Homo sapiens: one gene and its partners. The protein of the gene in region 2 interacts with the protein of the main gene of each other region in a biochemical or structural test. Each region holds a gene or a part of one and is shown on either strand. Other genes may lie near its edges. The genes, in order: TEC, FBXO7 and CAPN5.

Region 1 (3,653 bases), on a different chromosome or scaffold from region 2:
ATGTTTTACCTTTCAGTGAAGTGCAGCTTCTATTAAGTCCAATATTATTTTAATCTGAAAGATGGGATTGGTGTCATTGATGGCCATGTGGCCTCAATGGAAGTTATCATTATTTCCTTCTGGAGGCCAGTTTATCACACAACTGCCTTACCAGCAGCAGCACCCTTACTTCCCTTTCCACTTGTGCCCTCCTTGGAATGTGAACCAAGTTCCTGTTTCTGGCTGGGCTGATGTACCCTGCCGTTTGTGGATGATCACGACTTTCCCAACGTCATTTCATCAGTTGAGTCATTCCTCAGGCTCCCTTAATGGGCTGTGAACTTCCAGCATGCTCTCCCAGTTGCTTTGTAACATCAACATTCTTTATGGTTACACACATGATGACAAGAGTCAGTTTCCACAAAAGTAGGAGGATAATTGTTCCTAAGCCATCTTATCTGTGCAGAAAAAGCAAAGCTCGATCTTCCCATGATGGCAGCTATGCATTGGCAATACAGAAAACAGGAGTGCTGGCGATTGTGACAATGGAGTGGGTGCAACAATTACTTTATCTTTGGAGGATGACAGATGGTTAAAAAGGCTTTTTCAGCAGGTACCACTAGGCACCATTGTGAACAAAAGCTTGGCTAGTAGGGATACTGCAGAGCTCATTCCTCCCACTGTGCTTCCACAAGCATCCTTCCCTTTTCTAAACGAAGTCTTTGAAGTCATTGGAACCTCCCTTTTCCAGGCAGTATAGTTTTTCTGTAATGTACTGGGTCTTCACAGAAGTTCTTTCCTAGGGAAAGCATAGTACCAAGCAAGTACTTAATATACTGAATGAATTTTCCAGACAATTTTGGACACTTTATAGTTAAGAAAAAATGATATTTGGGCCAAGAGTGGTGGCTCATGGCTGTAATCCTAGCACTTTGGAAGGCTGAGGCAGGTGGATCACTTGAAGTCAGGAGTTCAAGACCAGCCTGGCCAATATGGTGAAACCCCATCTTTACTAAAAATACAAAAATTAGGTGGGCCTGGTGGCACGTGCCTGTAATTCCAGCTACTCGGGAGGCTGAGGCAGGAGAATCTCTTGAACTCAGGTAGCAGAGGTTGCAGTTAGCTGAGATCGCACCACTGCACTCCAGCCTGGGCAACAGAGCAAGACTCCGTCTCAAAAAAAAAAAAAGAGACATTTGGTCACAATTACCCAAGTTGTACTCAACAATCTAAATTCTCTAAATTCTTGATTAGACTTTCACATCACTTGTCTATATATGGATTGAAATATAGAGCATTCAATTTAAGTTTTCTCAAGTGTATTGTTTCTTGTATTATTTAGAAATATTCTTCACTGAAAACATTCTTGAAAGGACAACATACATTATTATCATTATTTTCCATCTGTATATTTTTTCTTAGCATAGTGTTATGATTATCTTAGTTTTTATGGCTACAAAGAATGGCTTTTGGAGGAGGGAGGGAAGTAAGTATTCATTATGTTATCTCATCAGTTTTATGTTTCTAAAGGAGGAACACTTTTGTTTGGATTTCTACAATATATACTTTTGCCTTTTGTAACTATATGTCATTTGTTTTTCAAGGTTAAAGCTTTTAACCTTGAAATGCTTACAATAGAGTATCAAAGCGACAGACTTTAACTTGTCATGTACTATATGAGATACTTACAAGGTGAAACTCCCTGTCAAGTATCCTACTCCTTTTATTTTTAATTTTGGTGACATTATAATGTGATTTAGTAGGAAAAACCTTTGATTTTTCTTCTCTTATCCTTCATGGAATTCCAATGATATCTTTTGTTACTATTTCCTTAGAAACTCTTAATGTCCTCACATACTCCTCAATATTATGTTTCAACCACGACTTGTGGGATTTCCATATGACTGCCCCAAAAATGAAACTGGCTTTTTTTCTTACAAGAGTGATTTAAAGTTTCATTTTTCTGCCAATATGATTTAAGCATGCAACAAAGTTAGTTTTTACTATTAGGGTTATTTTTGATTTGTAGAAGGCAGTTGATTTCTTCATTTTCCTGCTTGGGTGATAAAAATGCTTGATCCTTCAACCATGCAGGGAAACAGAAATACAATTTAACTGGGTTTGAATGCTGTCAGACATGTAAATTTAGGTATACATGCTTTTGAATTTTTTTAAGGATTGTCAGTGTCTTTGTCACATACTTAAACCAGTTATAGAAGCATTGCATGAAATAATTCTTGTTCATAAGTTCTGGAGTCCTAGCCAGAAGACATTTTTTAGGCTCAGAGCTGTTGACACACCATCTTGCTTCCCCCAGGCAAAAGTTTGATCTTTGGGTGCCACCGAGGTTCTCAGACACCTGGTGTGCTCCTTGGACTCTCCTTGCCATCAGTAAAAAAAAATTGTCATTTTGTAGAGTTTTATATATTCCTTGTTAGAAGATGTAAACAATACTGAAGCTTACAAAGAAGAAATTAAAAATAACCCTAAAACCATTCCAGAGAGAATCTTTGTGAATCCCCTTCCAGTCATCTCTATTACCAGCTGACTTTTAATAAATCTTTAGCAATGTTCTAGAAAATAATTAAGGAGCATTATGTTACAACTGTTTATGTAACTCCAAATTCTACAATCTTTATTTATACACAGGTAGTTACTTTATGACGTTGTAATTAGTCCATGCATAATTTTCTTTGGGTAATTCTGTCATGTTAGCATACGGTGGTATTTTGAGCCACTCCCCAGTTGTTGGACACTTAGATTTTTTTTTTCTTTTTTTTTGTTTTAGAGACAGAGTCTTGCTCTGTTGCTTAGGCTGGAGCACAGTGGTGCCATCACCATAGATTACTGCAGCCTCGAACTCCTGGGCTTAAATAGAAGGTTTGAGCTTCAGCCTCTGGCTTCAGCCTCCTGAGTAGCTAGGATTGCAGATGCATATGACTGCATCCAGCTCATTGAAACGAAAATTAAGCAGCGATGAGGCCTTGCTATGTTGGCCAGGTTGGTCTTGAACTCCTGGCCTCAAGTGATTCTCCCACCTCGGCCTCCCAAAGTTCTAGGATTACAGGTGTGAGCCACCACACCTGACTGATTTCTAGCTTTTATTCATCAGTTTTAGAAGGTCATAAAATAACTCACTAGCAATGTGAAGTTTCCATTTTTTCTCTTTTTTGACCTTTTAGAATTACAGTGTCTCTGTTATGTGAGGACAAGAAGAGCCAGAATGCTTGAGGCCATGTTATGTACCCAGTTATAGGTCAGATAAAACTAGAAGAACCTGACAGGTCATTTGCAGAGACTGTGTTCTTGTTGGTAATGTGTAGAGCCTCATTTCATCTTATTGGATGTCTATAGGAAAACTTTCCAAGGATCAGTAACAAAACATGGAAGAGTTGTTATGTAACTGTGCAATGACATTTGACCTCAGTACCTGGTCTAGAGTTTATGAAACTTTGTGTGACCCGGGAAGGCATCTTATGTCCTCAGGAAACTCCAGCCTTCCTATCCATTGTGCCATTTCTCTACTGCTTGAGTAATCATGGCCCAGTAAGGTGTGCAAGGCAACCAGCAATGTTAGAGAATTTTGCATTAATGTAGTTTCTTGATAAAGAACTACAGCAGAGTGAGCTCCTGTTCAGATTTTTCTTTTGACATCTTTCTTTTTTTTTTTTTTT
Region 2 (3,653 bases):
ACTACAATCAAAATGTTTGTTTAAACCTATATAAATTTGATGGCTATTTTATACAGATTGATACTTTACCAAAGGTTTGCATTCTAGGTAAGGTTTTGCTTAAACTCTATAAAATTATTAATAGATACAAAGAAGACAGGTTTTCCCTTTTATCATTTTTCAGTTAAACCAAACTGTGAGAGGCAGTTATAGGTGGTTGGAGCAGAAGAGATAAGGTGGAGAGGGGAACTGACATTTTTTAAGTGCCTGTTTCATTCTGTACTTGTGCCTGTACATATGTTATTCCATTTAATCTTCTTAGTAAACTTAGGAGGGTTTTAAGAGCCTAGTGGGAATGTTGTGGTACAATGGGAAGATGGCATTTATAGCAGTCCTTTAGGAAAGGCTGGCTAGATTGACATTGTTGCTTTGAAGGCCTAAAGGCTTATTCTTGTTCATTCCTAGGGGAGATCAGCCCTGAGAGATTGACTTATACTAACTAAAACTGACAGGAAAAGGAGATAGCAGAATACATATTTATAACGGTCTCTGATTGGATGTAGAGTCAGAAATTGGGAATTAGCTGAATTGAATTTTTTTTTTGAGACGGAGTCTTGCTCTTTCGCCAGGCTGGAGTGCCGTGGCGCTATCTCGGCTCACTTCAACTTCCACCTCCTGGGTTCAAGCAATTCTTCTGCCTCAGCCTCCTGAGTAGATGGACTACAGGCGCACACCACCACGCCCAGCCAATTTTTTTTTATTTTTAGTAGAGACAGGGTATCACCATATTGGCCAGGCTGGTCTCGAACTCCTGACCTTGTGATCTGCCCGCCTCGGCCTCCCAAAGTGCTGGGATTACAGGCATGAGCCACTGCGCCCGACCGAGTTGAACATTTAATGTCAGACTAGGCCAGAGTTTCTCAATCTTTTTATTCTCACTTCCCAAAGGAGCCGTTGGAGATTTTCCCCTCAATCTCTCTCCTTCATGAAATTTCATACCACAAATATAGTATGTTTTATTTATGTACTGTGACCCTTTGAAGGATCACAAACCAATATAATAGTTTTTCTTTTTAACCCGTCAAGGACCAGTTTTTGCCCCTGTTGGAAATGCATAAACTGGACTGATGAATTGGTATAGATGGCTTTTATCATGAGGATCAGAAAAACTTGAAATTCCTTGGCTACGACACTCCATATTTATCACCGTATAGGGAGGACCTTGTTATGGGGAGTAGAAACACTCTACACTTTACAGCAGTAGAGGTTTTATGCCCATTTTATAGATCAGGAAACAGATCTAGAGGAGGCTCACTTACTTAAGGGTCACAGAGCCAATAAATGGTGAAATACAGGATAGGAATAGATTTGGCTGACTCCCAGCCTTTTAAAACAACTTTTACAGGAATGTAGCTCAGATTGTTATTCTTTATCTGGTTTCTCTTAAATAAAGAAAAATGAAATGGAAGGGAGGAGGAACATTAAATACTGTTAAATTACAAGTTTATGGACTGTTATAATGAAGTATTTTTAATAAAGTCTTATGTTGAGTAGGAATATGCTGCTCATTTGGCAAGTCATTTTAATGAATTTTTACTGTGGTTCATAGCACCTAGTAACTATAACTAGGCACTGTTATTTATCCTTTTATTTATAAGTTCCTAATTAAATAGTTACATACCAGGTTGCTGAAGGAAAACATTCATTTAAAGAAAATCAATTTTCACATTTGAAAAAAGCCCTTGAGCCAAATTGATTTTAAAGAATGATATCTTGACAGCAAATTTCAACTCAAGATTGCAAGTCACACAACAAAGATTTAGACATTAGCTGCATATCTCTTTCCTTCTTCTTATCGATCCTGTTATACTGAGTGTTTTATTTGTTATAGATAGTGAAATACATAAATATGAAATGGGGAAGGAGCAAGCATAAATTGCCTACTGATACCCTAGGCACTGCTCGTGGAGCTTTCAATTATAACAACGCTTATCTGGTGTAGTGGTGGTGTCTCCTTTAAACAGTTGAGCAAAAAGGTGAGGATCAGAGGGGCAGGTTATTTGTCCAAGGCTATACACTTGGTAAATAGCAAAACAAGTGGGAACCTCGGCTGCAGTTTGCTAGTGCGTCCGTACTTTACTATGAGTCACCTGGGGATCTTATTAAAATATAGGTTCTGATTTGGTAGGTCTGTGGGGGCCTGAGATTCAGTAGTTCTAAACAGTTCCAGGTATTGTCAGTTCTGGTGATCTGTCGCCCACATGTTGAGTAGCAGTGTGGTGACTAAAAATGAGTGCTTTTGAGCCACACGGACTTGGGTTTGTGCACTGTTCTGCCACTAACCATGGGGCCTTGGACAGGCTTTCTGTACCTTGACCTGTTTTTAAAATGGAGATAGTAATTAGGAAAGAACTTCTGATGTGAAAGCTTGAAAAACGCTTGACACAGGTGCTGATACATAGTCATCATGCGATAAATGCTATTAATTTACCAGGTTCTAAGCGTTAACAGGAGCAGTTCTCCACTGTATCCTTAGTGCCCAGAACAGATTGATAGCTATCAGGAAATCTTCGTATGTATGAATCTCTCACAAGTCTTTTCTACAACTGCAGCCTATGAGCTAGAGAGGTTGGGCACAGCTCTACTAATTTGATATCATGGAATTTTTAGCTTTTATATCTAAGATTCAGTTTCATCAAGTCTTGCACTGTACTTCTTCCATGAGGGAATTTGGTTCATGCTTATCTTTGTGAATTATTTGTGAATATTTATTCACCATGTTGATTGGGTTTGGCAGAAATAGAGGACAGTTTTTTCACTTGATTTTGGGTTTTGATTTTACTTTAAAAAATATTCTAGGGGAAAATGTAGCCAACATATACAAAGATCTTCAGAAACTCTCTCGCCTCTTTAAAGACCAGCTGGTGTATCCTCTTCTGGCTTTTACCCGACAAGGTAAGAGATGAAATACTGTCACAATTTAAATGACTGTAAAGAATAGTAAGTATACTTAATATTCTTGGTGAGTATGACATCTGACTGCCCTCTTTTCTGCTCCTGGCGAAATGTTCCTCTTCTAAGACTAAGCTTAATATTCCTTAAGTGCTATTTACTTTATCTTTGTATCTCCATGCCATTTTGTACATATTTTTATTGTAGTCTCTTTTCCATGGACTATAATTGTTGATATGATTTCTTTCCACCTAAGGTTGGGAATACCTTGAAGGTAGGGAATATATCTTACTTTTGTATTCTTGTGGTCTAGCATGAGGTCAGGTACATAATAGATGCTCTTTCTCTCTGTGTAGATACATATATATATGTCTATATAGACATATATTTAGATATATATGTCTATATAGACATATATTTAGATATATATGTCTATATAGACATATATAAATAATACATGGTCTGTAATTGGATCTAAGTTTTTTTTTTTAAACCATTTATTGGAGGCTCTTTGCAGGCACTTAGTTGGATATTTCACATGCATTCTTATTTACTGCTAATGACTTCGAAGTAAATTATGTGGTACTTATTTTATAGATGATGAAATCATAATTCAATAAGGTTTATAATTCACTCGAGATCCTTATATTAGCTTCTCATTTTTTTGCAGTTAAAAAAATTAAAATCTCAGTGTCTTACAGTGAAATTTACTTCTCACTCGT
Region 3 (3,653 bases), on a different chromosome or scaffold from region 2:
TGGGAGGCTGGCTGAGGAGACCCTCTAAGAACAGAGCAGCCACTATAAGGACCAACTCAGAGAAGGAGCTGGAGGGGATGGACGGGCATGCAGCACGACTTCTCATTTGTAAACAGGCGGTCACAGGTAAGACTCCATCGAAACAAGGCTGCCTGAGGCCAAAGTTCCCTCTCACTGGCAAGCAGCTGGGCGTTAATGATAACCCACTGGGCTGGGCCCGCCAAGCAAGCTGAGCCAAGCCTGCTTGACTTCCTGCTCCACAAACCTCCCATCCCGTTAGTGGGGCAGGGGCTGCCTGTCCTGCAGGCTTGTGGCTAGCCAGTAGGCAGTGCCTACACACATGGTTTAGGAAATCCAGGCAGTGCCGTGGACCATCCACCCCAGCCTGGTCTGAGTCCCCATCACTGCTGCCCCTTGGGCCCCACTCACACAGCTCTCTGAACACCAGCCACCATACGCTCTCTGTCACCTGCCCCCACATCCAGGGCAGGGCAGCTCTGCGTGTCTAGAAAGGGCAGGGCACCAAGTGAGCCAGCGAGGAAGGCAACGAGAGGAGGAGGTGTGGCATGGCTCCTGAACCCACAAGGAAAGGGGCTCAGAAAGGGCAGCTGACTCCCCTGGGTCACGCAGCAGGAGAGTACCAAGCGGGCCAACCTGGCGTCTCCTCCTCTCACCGCAGCAAGCCCAGCCTGCTCCCGCCAGGCCTCACCAGCCTCTTTTCGGAGCCACGGACCTAAAATGTCTGGGCAATGGCCAGAGGGCAGGAGGGAGTCAGGACGGGGGTAGCCAGGGGATGGAGTGGGAGGAGGGCGAAGAGCTCGAGTGCCCAGCCCTCCTCCCCACAGCCAAGGCCTCACAAAGGCCCTTTGAGGCCAAGGCCTCCCTCCCCACCTACTTGACAAAGGAAGAGAGGAAGGCGTGGGAGAGGGGGCCCAAGAGGCAGAACTCTTGTGGCCAGGCCAGGAGGCTCCTGGGCCTTCCAGAGAGTCAGTACAGGGCCAGAGATTCTGTTACAGCTCTTGGGACTGAGGTCAAGGGCACCAGGGGCCCTTTATCTGGTGCCAGGAAGGTGGGGTGCAGGGAGGCAGGACTCTTCAACTACCCCTGCTAGCAGCTCATGGGTGATCTAGGACACGCACCTTCCTCTCTTGGCCTCAGTTTCTCTGCCACTCAAGAGTCCCAGTCCAAGGACATCTACGGGGTATTTTCAGTCAGAAGGGACTCGAGATCATAGCCTGGGAGGGAAACTAGAAAACTACATTTCATTTTCCCAAAAAGCCCAGGGGATCAGGAGGAACTTTGGAAAATGCAAATCTGACCCTGTTACAGGCTGCTGAAAGCCTTTGCCTTCGCGGGACCTCACTACTCACAGAGCAAGGTCGAGCATCTTGGCCCCAGATCTGCCACCCCAGGCATGGCTCTCCACAGGCCCACATGAGCCTGAGGGGCTCCCACCTGTGAGTTTCTATTCCCTCTGCCTTTTCCCACCTGGCCCTTTGGGCAAAAACCTCATCACCCTTCACCTCCAAGACACCTCCTCTGATTACTGGGCTGCGGGAGTCACAGCCTCCTCCCAGCCTGGAGCATCCTTGAGACAGCAGCATGGTCTCCCGCATTGTGAGGGGACGACCCTCAGTGTCACTAGCACAGCCCTGGAGGCCAGGGAGAGTAACCTCCTGCAGCCTCCCCTCCACCCAGGCCACCAGGGACCCCATTCTGCAGGACCCACAGACAAGCAGCGAACCCCTCCCCAGCCCACCCTCACACCCAGGAATCGGGGTTCAAGGGGATGAAATCACACCAGGAGGCCAAACATTTCTGTGTAACACACTCTAGCCTCAGGGACCAAAAGGAGTGGTCGGAGAGACGCCACCTGTTCATCATTATCAGTATCCATGGTCCCGTACTGGCTGCCAGGCTGTGAGTGGAATTTTGCATGCATTACCTCTTTTAATTCTCACAACCACTCTATGAGGTAGGTACTACTATCTTTTTACAATTATTATTATTATTGATTAATCATCATAATAAATACTTTTCATTTCTACCACAAATGACTATTTCAAAATCATGATGATAACAATCAGGAAAGTAAATTCCTTACATTTGGATGTCAATCTACATTTTATCAAAAATGGTCATATCCACATCACCCCATTTTTATTCCAAAAATGACCCTCAGCGGGGCTGAGGTTACTGCCCCATTTTTCCTGTGAGGAAGTGGAGGCCCTGAGAGGGTGAAGGCCTGGCTGGGCCTCAACCAATCCAGTGGTGGCCACAGGATTACAGCCCATTCTCCAAGCTCCCCATCCGGATCAAATCCCACCGTTTCAGCACCCTCACTTTCTCAGCAGCCTGGGGCCAGGGATGCCTCCTCCCACCACCCCGATGTCCCTGCAGGCCCAGCCTTGTGGGTGGGCCTGGGCCCGCTCACCCAGCTCCAGCTGGGACCAGACACTGACCTTGGGTCGCTTCCACCTGACGGCGGGCCCCGGCGTGCCCTTATAGTAGAGTGAGTCGTCAGTGGCGGGGAAGAGGGGGTCCTCGAAGAGCACCTTCCTGCGCCGGCAGTCCCGCCTCAGGGCTGAGTAGTTCTGGTCCTCATAGGGCTTCACACACGAGAACATGGTGGCTGCTGCCCCAGGGAGGGGAGGGGGAACACCTGGACAGGAAGGCAAGAAGACGGTCACTCACAGAGTCCCTGGGTCCCTGATGTGCCCTGTGAAGCGGACATCATCAGCCCCATGGCACAGGCACGGAAGGCTCAGCGAGGCGTGGAGCCTACCCAAGGTCACACAGCTGGTATACAGCAGAGTGGGACAGACACCGACCGGCCTGACTCCATAGACTGGATTCTCTCGTTTCTGAAGCTCAGAGGCGATACCAGGCCCACAGGCCACACAGAGCTCAGGCCTGGCCCACACCGCACCTACCTCCCTGCCTTCCTTTGTTTGACCAGCCTTCCCTACACCTCCTCAGACGGAATCAGACCAGTGGCCAGCCCTGCCAGCTCCCTGGCTGGTGTGTCTCCCACAGGAAAGCAGCGTGTGCCTCTGGGTTTCCCTCCCCACCTCTAGAGAGTGGCACATTTCTGCCTGGTGTGGGAAAACCTTGCCCCAGGTACCCCTCTCAGCATCATTCATTCATTCTCTCCGGTCCTCCCCGCACCATGCTGCCTTCCTCACAGCATCTTGGGAATAGGCGTCTCTAATTCTGTAGAGAGCAGGCCCATGGCTCCTTAACCCTCCCTCCATTCCCCAGGGGCCCAGGTGGGCCCAGCCAAGCACCCTGAACTTTGCACCAATGTGCTGACCAAGTGCAAGGGACACAGACTGGACCAACATGGTCAGGGAAGGCCTCTGGGAGTGGAGGGCAGGGCAGGGCAAGGAACAGCGGCTGGCAGGGCCTGCATATCAGGTGCGCTGAGAGATGCTCGGACGGCCAAGCACCTGAGTGACCACCCCATTTATGATCCACGCCCCCATCCCTCAAACTCCATCTGGGCTGCGGTGCAGCTCCACAGTCCCCGATCTACTCTTCCTGGGGCCTGCCCAGGGTAACAGTGCAATCCTTTTGGGGTAAAGGCCACAATTTCCAGCCCAGCCCTGAGGGAAACCAAGGCAAGGCAGGCTGGCTGTGGGAGTGATATCTGA

What was found.
Region 1: of the proteins of FBXO7 (region 2) and TEC, one has a biochemical effect on the other in vitro, tested with the Homo sapiens proteins (one large-scale study listed by BioGRID).
Region 3: of the proteins of FBXO7 (region 2) and CAPN5, one has a biochemical effect on the other in vitro, tested with the Homo sapiens proteins (one large-scale study listed by BioGRID).

The regions. Positions count from the first base shown.
Region 1 is NC_000004.12:48,259,717-48,263,369, reverse strand, and holds part of TEC (tyrosine-protein kinase Tec), read left to right. Parts: intron 1-3,653.
Region 2 is NC_000022.11:32,488,248-32,491,900, forward strand, and holds part of FBXO7 (F-box only protein 7), read left to right. Parts: intron 1-2,838; coding exon 2,839-2,934; intron 2,935-3,653. UniProt on the Homo sapiens protein: Substrate recognition component of a SCF (SKP1-CUL1-F-box protein) E3 ubiquitin-protein ligase complex which mediates the ubiquitination and subsequent proteasomal degradation of target proteins and plays a role in several biological processes such as cell cycle, cell proliferation, or maintenance of chromosome stability.
Region 3 is NC_000011.10:77,083,861-77,087,513, reverse strand, and holds part of CAPN5 (calpain-5), read right to left. Parts: intron 2,663-3,653; coding exon of another isoform or gene 2,628-2,662; coding exon 2,463-2,627; intron 1-2,462.